Linked DNA regions of Homo sapiens: region 1 is linked to region 2. The links come from fine-mapping of genetic effects on gene expression. A gene starts in region 2. The other region holds a variant in brackets. All regions are shown on one strand. Distances are from middle to middle.

Evidence for each region. PIP is the estimated chance that this variant, and not a neighbour inherited with it, causes the effect. A credible set is the group of variants that fine-mapping cannot tell apart.
Region 1: its variant is the best candidate, but not a certain one, in a credible set for the expression of PPP1R3B-AS1 in anterior cingulate cortex (GTEx, PIP 0.90).

Annotation. Positions count from the first base shown.
Region 1 is chr8:9,097,279-9,112,157 of GRCh38, forward strand. It overlaps a transcript of ERI1 not described here. Among named protein-coding and RNA genes, the nearest start is that of PPP1R3B-AS1, 37 kb to the right of the region's middle. The variant T/G (reference allele first, on the strand shown) is at 4,883.
Region 2 is chr8:9,137,393-9,146,291 of GRCh38, forward strand. It overlaps PPP1R3B-AS1 (PPP1R3B antisense RNA 1), which reads left to right and starts at 4,027. Exons shown (of 2, transcript XR_007060810.1): 1 at 4,027-4,406; 2 at 7,859-8,118. PPP1R3B (protein phosphatase 1 regulatory subunit 3B) reads right to left here. Exons shown (of 2, transcript NM_024607.4): 2 at 1-4,276. The coding sequence starts at 4,259. The coding sequence ends at 3,402. RefSeq lists an enhancer at 3,097-3,596.

The DNA of each region.
Region 1 (14,879 bases), 37 kb before region 2:
TAACAGTCGAGTGTTTTTGTGCTAGGCATTGCATTTGGTACTGGGGACCCAGTGGTAAACCAAACAAACAGGGCCTCTCTTCAGAAGTAATTTATCATTTAGGGCCAGGTGCGGTGGCTCACGCCTGTAATCCCAACACTTTGGGAGGCTGAGGCAGGTGGATCTCCTGAGTATCACAGGCTGAGTTCGAGACCAGCCTGGCCAACATGGTAAAAACCGGTCTCCACTAAAAATACAAAAATTAGCCAGACACGGTGGCGTGCGCCTGTAGTCCCAGCTACGCAGGAGGCTGAGGCTGGAGAATCACTTGAACCAGGGCGGCAGAAGTTGTAGTGAGCCAAGATTGTGCCACTGCACTCCAGCCTAGGTGACAGAATGACACTCTGTCAAAAAAAAAAAAAAAAAAGAGTAATTTATCATTTAGTAGGCAGTTAAGAGACTTTTTTAAAAGAAAGAAAAGAAGAAAGAAGAAAAGACATAAACAAGCACTATATACATCATAAAGAATGTGGATTTTATTCTGAAAGCAATAAAAGCCATTGCAGAAGTTTAAATTTTTGTTAATTAAAAAAAAATGCTTAACAACCCAAATGCCCGTCAATCAAATAGTGGATAAAGAAATTATGGTATATGTATATACACCATGGAATACTACTCAGTCATAAAAAGAAATGCAATAATGGCATTTGCAGCAACCTGAGTGGAATTGGAGACCATTATTCTAAGTGAAGTAACTCAGGAATGGAAAACCAAACATCGCATGTTCTCACTCCTAAGTGGGAGCTAAGCTATGAGGATGCAAAGACATGAGAATGATACAGTGGGCCGGGCACAGTGGCTCACACCTGTAATTCCAGCACTTTGGGAGGCTGGGGTGGGCTGATCACTTGAGGTCAGGAGTATGAGACCAGCCTGGCAAAAATGGTGAAACCCTGTCTCTACTAAAAATACAAATAATTGGCCGAGCGCAGTGGCTCACGCCTGTAATCCCAGCACTTTGGGAGGCTGAGGCGGGTGGATCACCTGAGGTCAGGAGTTTGAGACCAGCCTGGCCAACATGGTGAAACCCCATCTCTACTAAAAATACAAAAAATTAGTTGGGTGTGGTAGCTTGAGCTGTAATCTCAGCTACTTGGGAGGCCGAAGCAAGAATCGCTTGAACCCGGGACGCAGAGGTTGCAGTGAGCCGAAATGGCGCCTTTGCACTCCAGCCTGGGTGACAGAATAAGTGAGACTCCATCTCAACAACAATAACAAAAAGAAGGATACAGTGGGCTTTGGGGACTCCAGGCAATGGTTGGGAGGGAGGTGAGGGATAAAAAGACTACACCTTGGGTACAGTGTACACTGCTTGGGCAATGGGTGCACCAAAATCACAGAAGTCACCACAAAAGACCTTATTCATGTAACCAAATACCACCTGTTCCCCAAAAACCTATTGAAATAAAAAAAAAATTTTTAATAAAGAAATAGAAAAAAATGTTAAACAGCCTTATTGAGGTATAATTGACTTACAGCAAATTGCACATATTTCAAATATACAATTTGGTAAGTTTTTTGTTTGTTTGTTTGTTTCAGACAGGCTCTCACTGTCACTCAGACTGGAGTGCAGTGGTGCAAGCTCGGCTCACTGCAACCTCTGCCTCCCAAGCTCAAATGATTCTCCTGCCTCAGCTTCCCGAGTAGCTGGGATTATAGGCGCCCCCCCACCACATCCGGCTAATTTTTGTATTTTTAGTAGAGACAGGGTTTCACCATTTTGGCCAGGCTGGTCTCGAACTCCTGACCTCAAATGATCCACCTGCCTCAGCCTCTCAAAGTGCTGGGATTACAGGCATGAGCCACCACACCCGGCCACAATTTGGTAAGTTTTAACATCTGTATATACCCATAAAACCATCACCAGGATATGATGAGCATATCCATCCAACCAACAAAGAGTTCTTGTGCTCTCTTCTTCCTTCTCCCCAAGTAAGATTTGAACTCCAATGCTACTGATTAGTTCAACTTTTTTCAGAATTTTGTATAAATCATCATACAGGGCCAGGCACAGTGGCTCATGCCTGTAATCCCAGCACTTAGGGAGCCAGGAGGTTTGCTTGAGCCCAGGAGTTCAAGACCAGCCTGGACAATATAGTGAGACTTTGTTTCTACAAAAAATAAAAAATTAGCCAGGTGTGGTGGTGCATGCCTGTGATCCCAACTACTCAGGAGACTGAGTTGGAAGAATCAGTTGAGCCTGGGAGGTCAAGGCAGCAGTGAGCTGTGACGGTATCATTGCAATCCAGCCTGGGCAATAGAGCGGGACACTCTCTCTCTCAAAAAAAAAAAAAAAAAGAAAGAAACAGAAACCCCAACCAAATAAATAAATAAGCATACACTATATACTCTTTTTCACGTGGCTTTTGTTCTCTTTACCACTGTAGAGCATTCCATTGTATGATACAGCAATTTATTTATCCTTTTACCTATCAATGGACCTTTGGGGTTGTTTCTACTTTTTGGTTATTACGAATAATGCCGCAGTCTTTGCTAACGGTATTGGTATTATGGACACATGCTTTCATTTCTTTTGGGCAGACAACTGTGAGTGGAATTGCTGAGTCATGTGGCAAACTACCAGTTCTGTTGAACCTCAGGGCCATCATTCTGTTCATGTCAGCTCGTTGTAGAACCACATCGATGAAGACCAAGATGGTAAAGATGAAAAATTGTAGCTAACATTTACTGCACATTTACTACAAGCCAAGCATTGCACTATGAAGTTTAAGTGCATTATTCATTAACCCCTTCAATAAAATTTGTAATTTTCATTTCAGAAGCAAATATTCGTGTTGTACAAATTTCTGATTGCCCTAAATGTAGAGAGACTGATGGGGAAAGTATGATGGGTTTGATTTTTATATCAAATCATCAGGCATGGAGAAATATCTTTTAGAAGTGTTAAAATAAATGTTCCTACTGTATATTTAAAATACAAAAAATGATAATAATAATAATAACAATTCCTCTGAAATAGTTACCGTGAATACCCTCATTTAAAATGAGGAAGCTAAGCCTTTTCAAAGTTAAGTAACTTGCCTAAGGTCTCTTAACAACTAGCGAAAAGGATAGAACTCAAACCTAGGTCTTTCTGACCCTGCAGTTTGTGTTTCTATCCACGGTGTAAGTGAATGAGTCAATGTATGCTAAAGTCAAGACTCTTATCTTCTGTTTTGCTTTCTTTCAGCATGGACAGAAGCACATTAACCTAGTCACAGGTGCCAGTGAGGGGCATTCTGATTAGCTGAGATGTTGGTTTCATTTTGCTTTACTGTTAGTCTAAGAATCTAAGGAAAATATAATGTGCAAGATACATTTGGCAATCATTTTATAGATTTTGTTAAAACTCCATAGGAATCCTTTATAAAGTTGTCTAATCTAAAATATATGACTATATTTAAGATGCATTTGTTTGCTTGGTTTAGATGGTAGTTTTTTTAAAGGGCCTCATCCATCAAAACACAATAAATGGGAATTGACTGTAGAATCCTGAGAATTTGTAATATTTGGAGGCATAATGACATAGCAGAAGAATATGAGTTTGCAGGTAAAAGAGACTTGGATTGAATATTCGGTCTGATGTTTCACAGTGGAAAAGCTATTGAAACCTCATTTTCTCGTTGGTAGAATGAAGATAGTAATGCCTATTTAAAGGGTGGTTGTAAGGATTAAAGAAGATGACAGACCCGTTACCCGGTGACACATTAGATTCTTGGTGAGGGTCAGGTCCTAGTTCATTTCTAGTCCCCCCCGCAACCTTTTTTTTTTTTTTTTTTTAAAGGGATCACACCTTTTTATCCTGGCTTAAAATCTAAATCCCTTCCTGCTAGGAGTTGGTGATCCTTCCCAAACTGTATGCAAAATTTAGTATGTTTGTACATGTTCATTTTGCGAGAAAATATCCCTGTGTATTAGTTCCTTTTCAAACTGTTATAAAGAACTACCTGAGACTGGGTAGTTTATGAAGAAAAGAGGTTTAATTGACTCACGGTTCCGCATGGCTGGGGTAGCCTCAGGAAACTTACATTTTTGGCAAAAGGAGAAGGGGAAGTGAGGCAGACGGCAAGATGCAGGGGAAGTGCCACACTTTTAAACCATCAGATCTCGTGAGAACTCACTTACTATCAGGAGAACAGCCTAGGGGAAACCACCCCCTTGATCCAATCACCTCCCACCAGGCCCCTCCCCATGGGGATTACAATTCGAGATGAGATTTGGGTGGGGACACAGAGCAAAATCATATCACCCTGGCTTCCATCAGATTTCAAAGAAATCCATGATTCAAAGGCAATTTAGAACCACTGGGAGATTGTTTTTCATTCATTCAACAGTATTTACTGAATATCCACTATGGGTCAAGCGTTTTGCTCAGATAAACCATGTCCCTGACTTTCAGGAAGGTACAGCCTAGACTGGTGAATAAAAGTATGACCTGTTTTGTGAATCTGTGTGTTATCACGCTATTATTAGGTTGGTGCAAAAGTAATTGCGGCTTTTGCCATTGAAAGTAATTACTTTTGCACCAACTTCATGCTTACTTGTATGGAGATGACACGTCAGAGAGAAAGGAGAGTACATGAAACAAAAAGCAGAAGAATCCAGACAGTTGAGTGGACATGAAAAAGAGGCCCTGTAAGCAAGGAACAGGCATCAAGAAAATAAACCTTCCTGACTTTGACTGACAGCCAGCTGCTATATTAAGGTGTAGGATTGTGTAGGTTCTGCCCCACGGAAGTGCCGGCCAAGGGTTGAGTGGAGAGGGTTGGGGTGGGGAGGTGACGAGATGCAGCTTGAGCTCCCTTCACCAAGCTGGGGGCCCTGAAGACTCTGCCTACCTGGA[T/G]AGAGTAACTTTTTCTAATATGCTTCAAGGTGCTATAAGAGGCTGCCAGCCCAGTGTATTGCTGCTACACAGAGAGTCAGATTTTCCTTTAGGAGCTGAGCTGTTAAACTTGAAAGTAGATCAACTCTAGTTCTGAAAAAGAAAAAAAAAAAAGTGGGTTCTTTGGCTCTTTGCTCAGTTGATCCCTTAGAGGACATGATCAAGATAACTAACAGTTGGGTCACTATGTCAACAGTGTTTGGAGAACAAAGGAGGTGTCATTCAGCCTCACACCTTTCCAGGCAGCTAGTAAGGTGAGTTGGAAAAATCCTAATGCAGGAGAGGAATTTGTTTTTTTTGCATCTCGGTCCTCTCATTTTATAGATGAAGAAACTGGGACCCAGGATGATTATTTCCCAGCCTTTTCTTAAGCATGCAGCTGGAGAGTGGATGGTAAAGGCAGGAGGCCTTGGAGGATTTGTTGTACTCACTATGAGCACTTGACAATGGGAAGGGGCCCCTCTGCAGTGGCACTGGCTCTCCTGGCCCTGTTCACAGTGTCTAGCTCCACCCACCTGGCATATCTTGGGGCCAGAGCCTGTGCATATTTACTCTTTCGAGTCTTGCACTTTGCTCTTTTATTTTTACTGGCCCTGCACTTGTGTTTGCTCTTGGTGCTCTCTTCATACATATTGCAGGAGGCCCCCTGTTTAACTTGAGCTTGGGACTAAATATAACCACTGCTATCACCAGAGGCATCCATACATGTCAGCCCTTTTTCAGTGTTTGTCTGCTCCACCCCAGGTCGCAGGCACGGGGCAGGCCCCCGCGCTCCTTTCATAGGAATTCGGTTTTAAATGGAAACTATCACCAAAAGCAGGGGTGACTGGGGCCGGGAAGAAATCAATTCTTATCACAAGCTGCACTCATGCTTTGTCCCTGGTGTGCAAAAGCCCAGTCCCCAAATCTCCAAACCTCTCTTCTCCGTTTAACAGCATGGTAGATGCCCCTCTCGCTGACTCCATTTCCATCCTGTGAGCCCTTTGAAAGGAACTGCAAAGTGTCTGTAGCTTTGACATGTGCTTTTGTCTTCTGGGGCCTTCCAAAGCCTTTAGGTCATGCCACAGACCTGCAAACCATGGTTCTTGGACATTGTTCCCACACTGCACATTGCACCAGGAGAAGCTTCCACCTCACCTCCTCCAGGAAGCTCTCTCCCACACTCCTATCAACACTGCCCTTGCCTGTCTATAGTAATCGTGGTGATTAAAAGTTGCCTGCGTGGTTCATAAATTATTGTGTGGTTTTTCATCTTGTCAAAATGAGAGCAAAAGCCCTTCATTACTTGAATTAGTGTCTTCCACTCACCAATCCCTGATCCCTTTTCTCAGTGCTGAGAAAACAGGTGCTTGCCAATATCTCACTCTCTTGAGAACACTGAAGAAGATTCAAGCTCGCGTTTCCTACTTCTCTGAATACGGTAGGATCTGCTCTGACCTTCACTGCAGGCTGGGGAATGCCAGGCCAGAAGAGGGGCTTGGAGGGGCAGCTGGAGCTCCTAGAGAGAAAAGAGGGCACCCGCCCAGCCAGCTGAATCAACCCGGGATAATGAAACAGCAGAACTCGAAACCACATTGTTCTTGCAGCTTCCACTGGGTCTGAAATCAGATCCTTTACAATTTCTTCAAGGTCTACAAGTTCAGAAACTCACTCCTTTGAAAGAATACTGCCTGCAGTGACATCATTTTCTGAATCAATCCCTTTTTCTCTCCATCCCTTCTAGCAATTGTGAGCACCTGCTGCGTACAAAGCTCGGGGTTAACAAGAAGTCTAAGATGTACTCCTTGTACTTCTAGAGCGTGCTATCTAGGACAAAAGACTTATTTAAAGTTATGTTCAAAGGAAGAAGAAAGGACCCTTGGATAAGTCGACTGGGCTGCTCTTGGGGGCTGTCAGCAGCAGGGGTTATTTCGGGCACAAATTCAGGGAGAGTGGGTGATGATAGAGTAAGGAGATGTACAGGGGAAAGAGGAAGGGTTTATTTATGTGTTCATTTGTGAACTTGTTTCAACCCCGGGGAAAGAAGCAAGTGGTGAAGGTGGAGATTGCAAATACCAGAAAAGGCAGAAAGGAAGAGTACCCGAGACTCCATTGGAGAAAGAGTCAATGCAGTGTGGCAGGAACATGGGGCCACACCTCGGACGCTTCTCCATGAGGACAGGTCGTGATTGTTCCATCAGCCTGTAGATGCACAGCTAGCAGTTTTCTATATGGCTGCCCAGCTGCTCAGGCTGTTCTCCAAAAGGTCTTCTTAGGTCACGTGTTGGCTGTAGGTGAGGACTGGGAATACGTCTTGTTCTTTGCCCTGGATCCTGTGTGTACAAGGTCACCCTCATGCCATCGGGACTTTGAGTGAGGACACAGTGTCCGACGCCATTCATGGAAAGAACTATTCCGGTCAGGGTACATCTGAAACTGGCTACAGTTTGCTGGTAGGGGTGGCGTGGGGTAGAGGCATCAGAATTTGAGAGTCTCTCTGGCTTCAACATCTCTACTGCAGACAATTAACCTCAAGAGGCCCCAGGAGGGGATCTTCCTGGTGCCATTAAGAACACAGAGCATGAGGGGCCTCCCGTCTTCAAGGAGGTGGAGCTGGCTGTGAGCTCAAGGTGGGGCCTTCTGATTTTCAGTGATTTGTTGTTAGAACCGGAATTTCAGGGTTTTTGCAGCCTGGGGTCTATCCAGGCAGGTGTTAGAAAACTGGAATGACTAGATCATTAAGTGGTGTTGAGTGTGGCCATGCCAGAGTATGAAAGCTTTAGCAGGAACACAGAGCAGGAGCTTATCTCCGCTGCCTCAGTCGGACACATGATATTGCATTAGACATAAGCTCAAAGCTCACATCTCCCTTGGAAATACACAGTAACATCTAAAAACAATGAATTGAGATTAATAAAATATTCTTGGCTTGTGTTTTAAATCAAATTGGAAGTCCAGTTCATTTTGATCACTAATAGATGCTTTTTGCTGTTCCACAATCCATGCAAAATAAGATAATATGTTGTGTGTATAGCCCAGGACCTGGTGGACACTCAGAAATGCTGGTTATTTTCCTTAGTCTCGTCCCACCTGTTCCCCATAGAAGAAAGTCTGCACCCCATACATTTGAAACCCTGCACAATTTTTTCCCTTTCTTGTGTTCAATCATATGTAAGCACTAATTATGCGCCAGGCCAGGGAACACAATAGACAAAGTCCTTGCCCTCATAGAAGTTATTTATTTACTTATTTCTTAGAGACAGGGTATTGCTCTGTTGCCCAGGCTGGAGTGCAGCAGTACAATCATTGTTTACTCCAGCCTCCAACTCCTGGGCTCAGGCAATCCTCCCACCTCTGCCTCCCAAGTAACTGGGGTTACAGGCATTCACCAACATGTCCAACTCCTCATGGACATTATAATAGGAGAGAAAGTCAAGAAACAAATAAAGCACAGTACTGGCATGAACCAGTACCATGCCAGGTAATGAGAAGTTCTAAGAAAAAAGTGCAGCAGGGTCAGAGGATTAAGCATCCGCCTTAACATCTTTACTTTACACTTAGTCACCAAAGGAGCCCTCTGCTAGAGCCAGGCTCACATCCAGCCTCACATAGTACAGAGTCTCTTGAAGGTCAAAGTGTATGCATTTCAACTATTTCTTTCCATAAAAGCCCTCCAAGTCCCCTAACTCAGGGATCCCCCAGCCCCAGGCCATGGATTGGTACTGGTTCATGGCCTATTAGGAACTGGGCCACAGGGCAGGAGGTGAGCAGCAGTCAGAAGCTTCATCTGTATTGACACCCGCTTCTCATCACTCGCATTACTGCCCGAGCTCTGCCTCCTGTCAGATCAGCAGCAGCATTCCATTCTCATAGGAGCTTGAGCCTTATTGTGAACTGTACATGTGAGGGATGTAGGCTACACGCTTCTTATAAGAATCTAATCTCTGATGATCTGAGGTGGAGCAGTTTCATCCCCAAACCATCCCCTGCCCCTAAGTGTGTGGAAAAGTGAAACAAATCCCTGAGACCACTGCCCCAACCCTTGTTTTGCACATTTATTGTCATGTTGTTTTTGATTAAGATTCCAATGCTTCTTGTATCTGATTCTTTCCACTTGGGTTCAGTTTTCTTCTTTAGAAAATATACTCTTTTTCATTGAGGGCCTGTGAATAATATATTATCTTAGTCTTAATTTGTATATATATATAAAGAGAGAGATGGAGTCTTGCTCTGTTGCCCAGGCTGGAGTGCAGTGGCACAATCTCAGCTCACTGCAACCTCCGCCTCCTGGGTTCAAGTGATTCTCCTGCCTCAGCCTCCTGAGTAGCTGGGATTACAGGCACCCACCACCATGCCCAGCTAATTTTTGTATTTTTAGTAGAGATGGGGTTTCACCATCTTGGCCAGGCTGGTCTCGAACTCCTGGCCTCAAGTGATCAACCCGCCTTGCCTCCCAAAATGCTGGGATTACAGGTGTGAGCCACCACACCCGGCCTTAATCTGAATATTTTTTTGTTTCATCTCTATATTTATTCAATAGTTTAGCCCTCTATAGTTTCTAGATTAAAATTACTTTCCACGAGCAGCTGGAAATATTATTCCACCATCTTCTGGTGTCCATCGCTGTCGCTGAGAAGCCTTTTGTCAGGCGAATTGTTATGCTCTGTGTAATCTGTCTTTTTCTCTCATTGCTTCCTCCTCTCCTCCCTTCTGTTTTTTTTTTTTTCTCCTCTCTCTCTCTCCCTTTTCCCTTGTATATTTTTAAGGTTTTGTAAATCGTGTGTGTGTGTGTGTGTGTGTGTGTGTGTGTGTGTTCAGTAGCTTCAGTACAAGGCTTCTTGCTATAGATTTGGTTTCCTCTGTCCTGCCTGGGACTAACATCTTCAAGTATGAATTCTTATTCATTCTCTCAAAACTCAAATCCGGTGAAATGTCGACTCTTCATCTCCATTACTCTTAACATGCTGTAATATTTTCTATCTCTTTATCTCTCTGGTTGCAGAGGGTAATCTGTGCATATATTTTACAATCGCAGATGACAATGATCTATTTTACAATTCCCATATTCGCTATTCAGTTTTGCTGATCTGCAGTTACGCTGTGCCCTGCATTTTAATCTCAATGATGAGACTTATTCATTAAAATTCTTTTTTTAAATCTTTTTTTCTACTTTCATAGTGCCTTGTTCTCTTCTAGGGGTTTTGTCTTCTGTAGATATGTATTTAATCATTTCAAACATTTTTCTTTCATATTGTCTTTCTGATTGCCATTCTGTTCTATCAAGTCTAATTCTCCTGTTTATTTTGTCTGCTCATTCTTGGTGAATGAATGGTGAATTGTTGTCTTATGTATTTTGTAATTTTCAATTTGTGCTCTTATATACATTGTGTGTGTGTAAACATTTCTCATGGCATGGGTTGTGAGAATATCCTTCTAATGTTATTATCTCTATTTCTGCCAGGGACTCTATGGGTATCACTTAACTAAGACTTGCTTTTTTTTTTTTTTTTTTTTGTTTTTTTGAGACAGGGTTTTGCTCTGTCACCCAGAATGGAGTGCAGTGGCGCAATCTCGGCTCACTGCAACCTCCGCCTACCGGGTTCAAGCAATTCTCCTGCCTCAGCTTCCCAAGTAGCTGGGATTACAGGAGCCCGCCGCCATGCCTGGCCAATTTTTATATTTTTAGTAGAATCAGGGTTTCACGATGTTGGCCAGGCTGGTCTCGAACTCCTGATCTCAAGTGATCAGCCCGCCTTGGCCTCTCAAAAAGTGCTGGGATTACAGGTGTGAGCCACCATGCCCAGTCCTAAGACCTGTTTTTTTTTTTTTCTTATGTTTGTTCCTGAACTTACGGGTTCCTAGGCCGAATAAATAAATTTGAATCCTTCATCCATGCAAGGTATAGGCTTAGAGTTCCAATTTTTCAAGAGAGACTTTATCTCTCCACCCAGAAACAGAAAAACTTTCTTGTAATACCTTGGTACTGACGGGTAGATTTTTCTAGTTGATCTTATAACCAAGGAGGCAGCTCTAGCAGGGTTCCAGCTTAATGCAGGAATTTCAGTTACCAGCTCCATGGTTTTATCAGGCTCAAAGCCTTGCTGAGGTTAACATGTAGTCTCAATGTTGGCTTTAAGACGCAATGCTACATAGATCCCTAGTGGGGGCCCTGAACCAGCAGCCACAGAAGCAGCATGTTGTGGGCTGTCAGAAATAGACCCTTAGTCCCCACTGCAGAATCAGAATTTTTATCTTAGCAAGACTTATAGATGACTCCTGTGTACATTACAGTTTGAGAAGCACCACCCGGGTCACATGTTTTTTAATGCTCATTCTTCCAACCTCTCCCCTAGAGAAGTTATAATGTCTCTCATGTTTTTTCTGGGCTCTTTGTTTTAAACTTCTGTCTGCATTTTTGGAAACAAGAGATGTAATTTTCTTTCTTGAGAGCTCATCTGTGCATTGAAAAACATTTTTGTTGAAACCTTCTTAGTTGGCCATATTGCCAGGCCTAGAAATCCAATCCTACTCATTCTTCAAAGTTAAACTTTAAGCTTTTAGCAGTTTCCTATGCTAGCCCCTACCTTTGTGCTTTGTAATATAGACACTCAACAAACTATTTGTAGCTTTTGCATTCAAATGATGGATTAGAAAAATGTTCTTTATAGTGAGGTGGTATCATTTTTGCTTAGTTCTGCCCCTTCTATGGTATTCTCTTTTTTAACATAATACCCTCTGTGTCCCACTATATACTTTTTACAAAGCTGGCTCTGGCTCAAGCCAAGGCCTCCTCTCTGGCACCATGGAATTTCTGTAGTGAGATAGGAAAAATCTATTGTGCTCTCAGAGTCACAGACACTGAACAGCACAGCAGGGGCCAGGTTATCAGTGGCCTCTTCTTCCAGAGTTCCTGTAGGACAGTTGGTTATCTCAGCCTGTGCCCAGTCAGCCTACACGTGGGGGTCTGGGTAGTAAAAGCTGCAGAGAAAGCAGCTCTGTCCAGATTCATTTGATTAACTAGACAGGCACATCAACTATACACCCGTTCATTGCATTGCAGTATCCTGAAACTCAGGGGCACTTGAAGGGGAAGAGGAAGTAGCTCCTGCCTCTGGGGTGCTTGTAATCATATGGTAGTGAGACACCCATATCCAAAAGAATGAGAAGAAAAATCCCAAGATGTTAGAGATGCAAGTGCCTCATAGGGAGGTAGAAACTGTGTACACAATGCTGAGAGAACATCAAGTAAAGAGAAGCAACTCCATTGGTTGGGACAGAGCAACATCATCCCTTGTTTCCTTAAATTGCCAGTAAATATTTATCCTCTGCTTGCTTCTGCTTGGGGCCAAATCATTCTCCTTTGTTTTAGAGAGAAGGAAGGAGCCCCTCTGTTCTCCCCTTCCTGGGAAATTCATCGCACCAACAGCGGAGATCTTGGCTTTTTACACTATTTTGGGGGCTCTGCTTGGCATAAAATAATACATTCCCTGCCTGGGGCTAGGACAGATTGCTGCTTTTCTCCCACCTCCTGTAGGGTACATCTGGCCAACCATCCCGATCATTGTTTGCAAAGCTTCTATTCAAACATGTATATTGTTTTATGAATGGCAAAAGAGGAAGCCAACAATAACCTTAGGTCTTCATCTGCTTCTTTCATCTGAAGGGCGGGATGATTCTGTGAAGTTCCCCTCCAGCCAGTGTCCCATGCTCTCTGTTTCCTGGGAAGCCAAGATCATCAAGATCATAGTCTTCTTTTGCTCACAGCACACCCACTCCTGGAGTCCCAAACCCCATTCCTTTCTAAATCCTACTATTCTTAAATACTCTCTTTCCCTGGTGACTTTGTATCTGAATGGATTATTTGAAACTTCAATGGTGCCTTATAGTGTTAGGAATTGTTTTTATGTCTTTCTGACTTACCTCCCCAAATATATTTTAAGCTATTTGAAGGCAGAGGATTCATAGCATGTGGCACAACGGCAGGCAAGGGCAAGTTCTCAAAGATCTCAAGAAAGTCTGTTGAGCCCAAATTCATAACACTGTTAGTTATCATACATAAGGTCACTCACCTTCCATATGATGCCCAGGTTGTTGTAGAAGTCATAGTAAAGAACGTCTAAGGACATAGGAATGTCTTGTTCATAAAGGTCAGAGGAATAAGCCAGACTTTCTACTGTTGGGGGAGGTGAAATGCCACACAAGTGCTTACCTGAACCCAGTACCTCCATTCTCCTGCCACCAACAGTTTACTTCCTATCACCTTCTCTCCCATGTAGAATCATCAAATGTCCCATGCAACTTTCTGATGTTACGTACAGACATACCTTGGAGATATTGTAGGTTCAGTTCCAGACCACTACAATAAAGCAAGTATAGGCTGGGCACGGTGGCTCACACCTGTAATGCCAGCACTCTGGGAGGCTGAGGTGGGTAGATCATTTGAGGTCAGGAGTTCGACACCAGCGTGGTCTGAATGGTGAAACCCTGTCTCTACTAAAAATACAAAAATCAGCCAGGCATGGTGTTGGGCGCCTGTAATCCCAGCTACTTGGGAGGCTAAGGCAGGAGAATCGCTTGAACCTGGGAAGCAGAGGTTGCAATGAGCCAAGATGACACCACCGCATTCCAGTCTGAGTGACACTCCATCTAATAATAAAAAATAAAAATAAATAAATAAATAAAGCAAGTATTGCAATAAAGCAAATCACCTGAATATTTTGGTTTCCCAGTGCACTTAAAAGTTATCTTTATACTATACTAAAGTGTATTAAGTGTCCAATAGCACTATGTCTAAAAAAAGATGTACCTATCATCTTAATTTAAAAATACTTCAGGCCAGGTGCGATGGCTCATGCCTGTAATCCCAGAACTTTGGGAGGCCAAGGCAGAGGGGTCACTTGAGGTCAGGAGTTCGAGACCAGCCTGGCCAACATGGTGAAACCCCATCTGTACTAAAAATATAAAAATTAGTCGGGTGTGGTGGTGTGTGCCTGTAATCCCAGCTACTCAGGAGCCTGAGGTGAGAGAATCACTTGAACCTGGGAGGCAGAGGTTGCAGTGAGCTGAGATTACGCCACTGCACTCTAGCCTGGGTGACAGAGTGAGACTCCATCTCAAAAAATAAATAAATAAAAATAAAAATACTTTATTGCTAAAAAATTGCTAACAATTATCCAAGCCTTTAGCAAGTCATAATGTTTTTGCTGGTGAAGAGTCTTGCCTCAATATTGATGGCTGCTAACTTAGCAGGATGGTGGTTGCTGAAGGTTAGGGTGGCTGTGGCAATTTATGAAAATAAGACAATAGTGAAATTTGCTGCGTTCATTGACACTTGCTTTCACAAAAGATTTCTCTGTAGCTTGTGATGCTGTTTAATAGCATTTTACCCATGGTAGAACCTCTTTCAAAATTAGAGTCAGTCCTCTCAAATCCTGCCGCTGCTGTGTCAACTAGGCTTAGGTAATATTCTAAATCCTTTGTTGTTGTTTCAGGAATGTTCACAGCATCTTCAACAGGAGTAGATTCCATCTCAAGAAACCACTTTCGTTGCTCATCCGTAAGAAGCAACGCCTCATTTGTTGAAGTTTTATGATGAGATTGCAGCAATTCAGTCATATCTTCAGGTTCCACTTCTAATTCGAATTCTCTTGCTATTCCCACCACCTCTGCATTGACTTCCTCCACTAAAGTCCTGACCCTCTCAAAGTCATCCATGATGGCTGGAATCAACTTCTTCCAAATCCCGGTTAATGTGGATATTTTAGATGCATGCCTGTAGGCCCAGCTACTTGGGGAACAGAGATGGGATTATTTGAGGCCAGGATTTCGAGGCTACAGCGAGCTATGATTGTGCCACTTCACTGCAGCCTGGTGACAGAGTGATACCCTGTCTCCAAAAATATTTATAAAAAAGAAAAAACTTTAAAATGTTGATATTTTGACCTCCTCCCGTGACATGCAAGACCACATAATGGCATCT
Region 2 (8,899 bases):
TGGGAAAGATTCTGGGACTCGGGGGCCACTTGTAACCATAACCAAGAGCTGTCTGAAGGCAAATCTACAAGTCAAGGTGCAGTGAAGTCTCCAAGTAAGAAACCTGTCACCCTCTGAAGTGTGTAGGCTTATCTACTGATGATGAGCTATCAAACAAGGAGAGAATACATCAGCGCAGCTCCCGAGGCCTTCTGAGAATTTCACGGGACAGAACTGGGCCAAAAGGAAGAAGACTGTTTGCGGCAGGAGGGTAGCAGAGGAGCAAGTGGTAAACAGAAGACAGATAGAAGGCAGTATTCTTCAGACCCCCATACATCACTGAATGACAGCCCTGATGAGGAAACTCAGGCAAGTAGAGTCTTTTATTGGAGAAGAAGGGTCTTTGCGAGCAGGTGAGGACTTGCCTTCTGAACTGTGCGGCAGGGTGAGCATCCCAGGTGTGCTGGCTGGGGGCTTGCATCCAGCACCCCCAGCAAAAAAAGCCAGGGTGAGCTGGGAGAAAGACGGGTAGTGGGGAGGGTTTACGGCTGCTTTAGAAGAGATAGTTATCACTGAATTACCATATTTCAAATTTTGACATGGGAATGTCTTAAGATCATTATTAGATAAAATTAAACTGACTTTATTAAACAGAGTCACTTCAGGCCTTTTTCTTATGAACAGAGTGATCCTTAGTCGGGTAACATGTCAATGACAGTGCACTCTGTGCCTCTCCTGCATTGTGGGGAGGGCACTTCTTAAGGCAAAGTAAAATTCAGGACCTGCATGAAATCAGTTTTGCTTCCATTTGAGTTCGATTTATGCTATTAATAGTTCTGATCACCAAATTTATAACATTTAAAGTACTGTCTGTTACCCGATGTCTGGTATGTTTACATAAAACGTGGTTCTGCCCAGTAACAGCATAAGGTAAAAATGTGATTTCCCCTAAAATTATAACATCATGTCATCCTAGAGTGTTACCCACCTGGGAGAGGTACAAAAAACAAAGCATTAGATTTCAGGCTAAGAACAGCCAGTTTTAGGAGTAAGAATTACATCGAATAGCCTTAAGAGCATTTAAAAAGTCAAGGCATCTTAAACTTCAGAAATGAAAACAAAACCAAAACAAAACAACAACAAAAACAACCTAACCCAACCACAAAACTCTAGGAGCCAAGGCACTCAGTATCTGCCTGTTGGTTATGTACAAAGCCACAAATGGGAGGTCTTTTCAAATTAATCTGGAAAATCCAAGCACAAGACTCTTAGCTTGAAAAGCCTGACAACTCTGCCTCCAAATCCAGGCAACTGTGCTTCCACTCCTCTTCTTGCTTGCCTTAGGAAAACTTCACTTTAGTAAGATAAGGCAAAACAGAAAATAAAAGAGTCGTTTAACCAAACTCCAAAAACAAACAAAAATAGAAAATAAAAAACCAACTTCCTACAAGTATACTTGTAAAAATATATTTTTAAAGCACCCCTAAGTAAACACCAATCTTGCCCAAGAAAAATCACAGGTTTGGGGCCTATCTGATAATGACTGTCCCGGAAGTCTCTCTTTTTTGAGACAGTTTCACTCTGTCGCTCAGGCTGAAATGCAGTGACGTGATCTCGGCTCACTGCAACCTCCACCTCCTGGGTTCAAGTGATTCTCCTGCCTCAGCCTCCCGAGTAGCTGGATTACAGGCGCCTGCCACCACACTCAGCTAAATTTTGTATTTTTAGTACAGACGAGGTTTCACCATGTTGGCCAGGCTGGTCTTGAACGCCTGACCTCAGGTGAGCTGCCCGCCTTGGCTTCCCAAAGTGCAGGGATTACAGGCATAAGCCACCACACTCGGCCCCAGAGGTCTCTTTTACAACAGCACTAACCAACAGACTTTAGTCCAATATGGTTAAGAACAATGAATCTCTGAAATTTCAGAGTTGGCAAACGTTTAAAATAACGTATAAGAACTTGGGTGAGGTTTTTCTCCCCTATCTCTTTACATACACACCATAAATAAGAACACCCAAGTCCATGTCCCTGGGTGCTGGTAAAGTGTTCTAGATAGTGTGAATCACAGTCACGATAAAACCATTTTCTGAAGGTTTCGAGGAGATATTGGATATGCAAATCAAATGTCCTAAACACAGCAGAAAAGATGACTCTTTGGGAAAGGAGATTCAAAATTCTCTTTTTTTTTCTGTTTGAGACGGAGTCTCGCTCTGCTGCCCAGGCGGGAATGCAGTGGTGTGATCTCGGTTCACTGTAAGCTCCGCCTCCCAGGTTCCCGCCATTCTCCTGCCTCAGCCTCCCAAGTAGCTGGGACTACAGGCGCCCGCCACCACGCCTGGCTAATTTTTTTGTATTTTTAGTAGAGACAGGGTTTCACCGTGTTAGCCAGGATGGTCTCGATCTCCTGACCTCGTGATCCACCTGCCTCGGCCTCCCAAAGTGCTGGGATTACAGGCATAAGCCACCGCGCCCGGCCCCAAAATTCTTTCATAAAGAATGAGACAAACCAGCCAAGCACGTTAAAGTCATTGAGCTTTCGGGGGAAAAATCAGATTTTTCCGGTGACTCGGGGTAAATGTGGGGACTTAGAAAGCTCCCCCTAGAAGGCAAAAGTAGAAGCTGAAAGTGTCCCCACTCTTGACTGTCCTGCCTTGTCAGAACCCTGCAATCTGTGACACCGCACAGGAGCCAGTGGGTTTTGATGACTGGTGTGTTGCTCTCTGCTGGAATACATCTGTGGGGTCAAGAAGCGGGAGGAGGAAATGCCTGTCTCAACCACTAACTAATTTGCCTTTATTATCTTTTCCTGAACATCAGATCAATTGTGGAAGAACATAAAATGCAAAACATGAACTTGCAGAAAACAAGAGCCAATCCCATTTCTCTTCTGCAGCTGCACTGGAAATGTGCGTCAGCTCAGTGTGTCACAGCAGAGATACACGTGGACGGGGAAGCACAGCAGCTTGCAGGAAAGGCCTGGCTGGCAGAGAGCACCCAAAGATGAACACAATGAACAGTGAGGGTCTCACGCGAGGTGGCTGGGGCTGAGTGGCTTTTGGCGACTGATGTCCCACATCTGAGTGGAGAGCAGAGGAGAGACTCCTCCAGCTTCATCAGCACTGGCATAGGCTTGATTCCCATCCATACCCTTTCCAGCACAGACGTGCACAGACTCTCGTGGCTGCCACAGTGCGAAAGCGCGCCAGCCACCACTGCTCCTTTGAGTGAGACACTGGTTGTGTAATCTGAACCTGGCTGGATTTGCTGTTTAAGAAAGAAGTGAAGAGGATCCTTTTATTTTCCCAAACGGGGCCTCATGGAAGTTCCACGTTGCTCCTCCCTGGCCTTCCATCTCCACTGCACAGTGAGCAGAGCTAGGCTTGTCTGTGGCAGCTCCGCCACGCCCTGTCACCTGCAGTCACTAGTAGTAGGGCCCTAGCTTTTCATATCCTAAGTAACTTGGCCACTCTGGAAACAGACCATAGGAACACCGAGGGCTTCCGAACTGGTCAAAGGATATTCCCAAATCCGGTCCACTGTGGGGCTTGGTCATTCCCTGGGTAGATTTTAACTCAGCCCGGATGATCCTATAGTTCTTGCCTCTGTTGCTGTCCCAGTACGTCTGTCCATTGCACTCGTAGTACACAGCAAACTCCATTCTTTCATAAGACTGAATCTTCTCGGGCAAGCTGATGTCGAAGGAGAACGTGTCCCTGTCTGAACCGGCATAAGTGTCCTTCACGTACTGACAAGGAAAGTCTGTGTAGCTCTTCCAGGTGTCGAACGTCATCCTTATTTTCACGGTCTTCTCAAATGCGAGGTTCTGAACCTTCACAGTGCCTGCAATGGCCTTGTCCTTGAGCACACAGTTCTCAAGGCAGACGTGGTCGGCCTGAAGTCGATTTCTAAAGTCTAAGTAATCTGCAGAGGGCTGGGAAAAATCCAGAACAAAGCTCTCGCTCTCTGCTGTCGTCAAGCTCACAATGTTGTCTAGGAGCTCGGTGATGTTGAATGGCATATCTAGCGGGTCATCGAATTCCGAGAACACTTTGACCATTGTCAGGGCCAGCCCCTGGTTGTCTGCGAAGGACACCCGCTTTTTCACCTTCTTCTCCTGGACAGCCGGGGCCACCATTCCACTGGCTTCATTCTTGCTGCTCAGCTGAATACAAGGCCTCAGTGGTTTGCTGGGCTTTGGTGAGATCTTAAAGGCAAACCTCTCTTGGCGCAAGGAAGGAGCCATGCAGTTGTATCTGTACTCGATGTCCACAGCCATCATGGGGCTAGATGAACAGGCTAGAACCGTGGAAAGGGAAGAGAAGAAAGAAAACAGTGGAGCAATCAGATCAGACAGATGTGTAAAGGCATCATTCCAGCAGGGACTGGCAAACAATATTTCCTTTTATCTATGCCCACCTGGCTACAGGTCAGGATTAACTCTGGTGTGGTCCAGCACAACATGCGTTTGAGAGAAGATTATGTTGTGGGGGGACGAGATGCGGTGGGGGGTGGGGGGTGCTTCAAGGTTAAAACAAACAAAAGAGTATGAAACCCACTAGTTTTAAAACTAAATGCACAGGTTTTTTGGTCAGCATTTCTTGGGGCCTTCCGTTGGCAAATGTGCCACAGAGGATAATCAAAAGGGCATATATACTGTTTTAAAATTTCCCAAATCTATTTGACTAAAAGGGTGTCTTCCACAGATAGCTGTCCTGAGGGACACTATTTATTTACGTATTTTTAGAGATAGGGTGTTGCTCTGTGCCCAGGCTGGAGCGCAGTGGCGTGAGCACAGCTCACTGCAGCCTCGACCTCCCAGGCTCAAATGATCCTCCCACCTCAGCCTCCCAAGAAAGTGGGACCACAGGCGCAAGTCACCATGCTTGGCTAATTTTAAAAAATTTTTGTAGAGACAGGACTCGCTATGTTGCCCAGGCTGGTCTCACACTCCTGGCTCAATCCATCCTCCTGCCTTGACCTCCCAAGGTGCTAGGATTACAGGTGTGAGCCTCTCTGCCTCTCTTTATTAATTGAGAAGTAAAAATTGTATATTCTTATGGTGTACAACAGGTTTCCATATATGTATACATTGTGGAATGGCTAAATCGAGCTATTTAACATGCATTATATCACACTTTTTTTGCAGTGAGAACACTTAAAATCCACTCTCAGCAATTTTCAAATATATAACATATCATTACCAAGTATAGGCACCATATTGTACATCAGATCTCTTGAATTTATTCCTCCCGTCTACCTGAAATTTTGTATCCTTTGGCCAAAGGATACCTCTCCAGTCCCTCTACCCTCACTTTCTGGTAGCCACCCCTGTACTCTCTGTTTCTATGAGTTTGACTTTTTCAGATTCCACATATAAGTGAGATCATGCTATATTTGTCACTCTGTGCCTGACTTATTCACTTAACATCCTCCAGGTTCATCCCCGTTGGCACAAATGACAGGATTTCCTTCTTTCTTCAGGTAGAATGGTATTCCACTGTGTTTATATACCATGTTTTCTTTATTCACTCATCCAATGATGGGCACTTAGGTTGATTCCGTATCTTGGCTTAGTGAATAACGCTGCAATGAACATAAGAGTACAGATAACTCTCCGATACACTGACTTCAATTCCTTTGGATATATGTCCTGCAGTGGGATTGCCGGGTCATATAGTAGTTCTAGTTGTGGTTTTTTGAGGAGCCTCCCTACTATTTTCCATAATGGCTGTACTAATTTACATTCCCACCAGCAGGAGACAAGGGTTCCCTTTTCTCCACGTCTTTGCCAATACTTATTTTCTTTGGTCTTCTTGAAAATAGCCATCCTAACGGGTGTGACGTGACATCTCATTGTGGCTTTATATTTGCTATAATCTGATAAAAAGAAATGGATTCATCCCACAAATAGGGATTGGGTGTTTCCTATATGGCAGGCATCAAGCAAGATACTGGGATTCAATAGTGAAGATAGACACAAACCTGCTTTCATTAAGTTTATGGTAGGTTTTTAAATGTCAGGATACCATTCTTTTAAAAAGAACCAGCAGGCCTGGGCGGTGGCTCACGCCTGTAATCCCAACACTTTGGGAGGCTGGGCAGGTGGTTCATCTGAGGTCAGGAGTTTGAGACCAGCCTGACCAATATGGTGAAACCCCATCTCTACTAAAATTACAAAAATTAGCTGGGCATGGTGGCATGCACCTGTAGTCCCAGCTGCTCTGTAGGCTGAGACAGCAGAATTGCTTGAACCTGGGAGGCGGAGGTTGCAGTGTGCAGAGATCACACACTCCAGCCTGGGCCACAGAGCAAGACTCTGTCTCAAAAAAAATAAAAATAAATAAAATAAAAACAACCAGCAATTTCGTATTCTTAAGCCTTTAACATAGGTGAATATTTGTTTTTTCCACAAGTAAAAAATTGGCTCTATAAGAATAAAAAGCAAAGAGAATCATGCTGAAAGAGGATAAATCTGAGTTAACAAAAACTATATTTTCTTTAAGTAAAAACGATAAGTAAAACAAAAAAAGACTACAGACAAACTGTGAAAATATTTTACAATAAGCATAGCAGCAGAGCTAATACCTTAATATGTAAAGTGTTCTTACAAAGCAATAATAAAGTCAAATATTCCACATAGAAAAATAAGCAAAGAACATGAATAGAAAATTCATGAAAAAAAATTTTAAAGTGGCCTATAAATATGCAAAATGTTCAACCTTATTATTAATTTAAGAAATTTAGATGAAAAACAATGTCTGTTTTTTATTTATTGAATTAGGAAAAAAATTGAAAAGATAATACAAGTTTTTCTTTTTTTTTTTTTTTTGTTTGAGACTGGGTCTTACTCTGTCACCTAGGCTGGAGTGAAGTGGTATGAACATGGCTTATGGCAGCCTCCACCTCCTGGGCTCAAGCGGTCCTCCCACCTCAGCCTCCCGAGTAGCTAGGACCACAGGCATGAGCCACCATGTCCGGCTAATTTTTAAAAAATATTTTTTTGTAGAGACGAGGTCTCACTATGTTGCTCAGACCAGTCTTGAATTCCTGGACTCAAGCAATCCTCCCACCTCAGCCTCCCAAAATGCTGGGATTTATAGGTATGAGCCACTGTGCCCAGCCAATGCAAACATTTTCATTAGTTAAAATTGGTACAAACTTTCTAATTTTTTAATCATTTTTTATCCTAATATCACATAGAGACATTTATCCTAGGTAAAGAATTAAAAACACACAGAGATTAAGGTACTAAAATGTTCAATGCCACATTATAGGGGGAAAAAGATGACAAAATAACCTAGGTGACCATTAACAGGTACCTGGTTAAATTAAATGTACCACATCCATGTGATGTACTTTTATTTTTACTGTTGTTATTTTTTCCTTTTTTGAGACAGAGTTTCACTCGTGTCACCCAGGCTGGAGTGCAATGGCACAATCTCGGTTCACTGCAACCTCCACCTCCCAGGTTCAAGTGATTCTCCTGCCTTAGCCTTTCGAGTAGCTGGGATTACAGGAGTCTGCCACCACGCCCAGCTAATTTTTGTATTTTTAGTAGAGACAGGGTTTCACCATGTTGGCCAAGCTGGTCTCAAACTCCTGACCTCAGGTGATCCACCCGCCTCGGCCTCCCAAAGTGCTGGGATTGCAGGCGGGGAGCCATCATGGCCAGCCCATGTGATGTAATTTTATATCATCATTAAAGCCATTATTTTAAAAAAGATTCAAATGAAATGAAAAAAAAATATTATATATTTATATTTATGTCTACATATGTATATATATATAGAGAGAGAGAAGATAAAATTGTACATAGAAACTAGACTTGTGGGGAAAAATGCTGTTGTCACTTCAACGACATGAGTTTGAACTTTGTAGGTCCACGTATGCTCAGATTCTCTTCTGCCTCTGCCGCCCTGAGACAGCAAGACCAACCCCTTCTCCTCCTCTTCCTCCTCCTCAGCCTACTCAACGTGAAGAGGATGAGAATGAAGACCTTTATGATGACCCGCATCCACTTAATGAATAGTAAATATATTTTCTCTTTCCTATGATTTTCTTAACATTTTCTTTCCTTTAGTTTACTTTACTATAAGAATACGGTATATGTTACAAATAAAATACAAAATATGTGTTAATCGACTGTTGATGTTATTGGTAAGACTCTGGTCAACAGTAAGCTGTTAGAAGTGAAGGTTTTGGGGAGTCAAAAGTTATATGTGGATTTTTGACTGTGTGGGGGCTAGGCTCCCCTAGACTCCATGTTGTCCAAGGATCAACTGTATTATGTAAATGCAGAGAAAAAAGACTAGAGATATATATTTAAAATCAGAATACCTAGGTGACAAGATTTCAGGAATTTCTGGTATCCTGGTTTGTATTATATCTTCTAAAATAATATTGCTTCTATCATCAGAACAAAATGAACCTAAAAAAAATCCTCAAATATTTTATGATATGCCAAAAACCCATCCCATCACTACTGCCTCACTAAAGCTGAGCACTTTTTTTTTATAAGACAGGATCTTGCTGTGTTGCCCAGGCTGGAGTGCAGTGGTGCAATCATAGCTCACTGGAACCTCAAACTCCTGGGCCCAAGCAATCCTCCCGCCTCAGCCTCCAAAGTAGCTGGAACTACAGGTGTGCACCTCCATGCCCAGCTAATTTTTCAATTTTTATAGAGGCAGGGTTTCACCATGTTGCCCAGGTTGGTCTCAAACTCCTGAGCTCAAGCAATCCTCCCGCTTCAGCCTCCCAAAATCTGAGCACTTTTTATCATTCTAATTACCATGGCAAATTTATATTTTGATTTGACAGTTTCAATGGACTAAATTAAGGAAATGAGTGCCGAAACTAGGATTAAAATCTCAAGTCTGAGAATCACAGAACACAGGATCTGGATGAGTCCCCAAACCTATC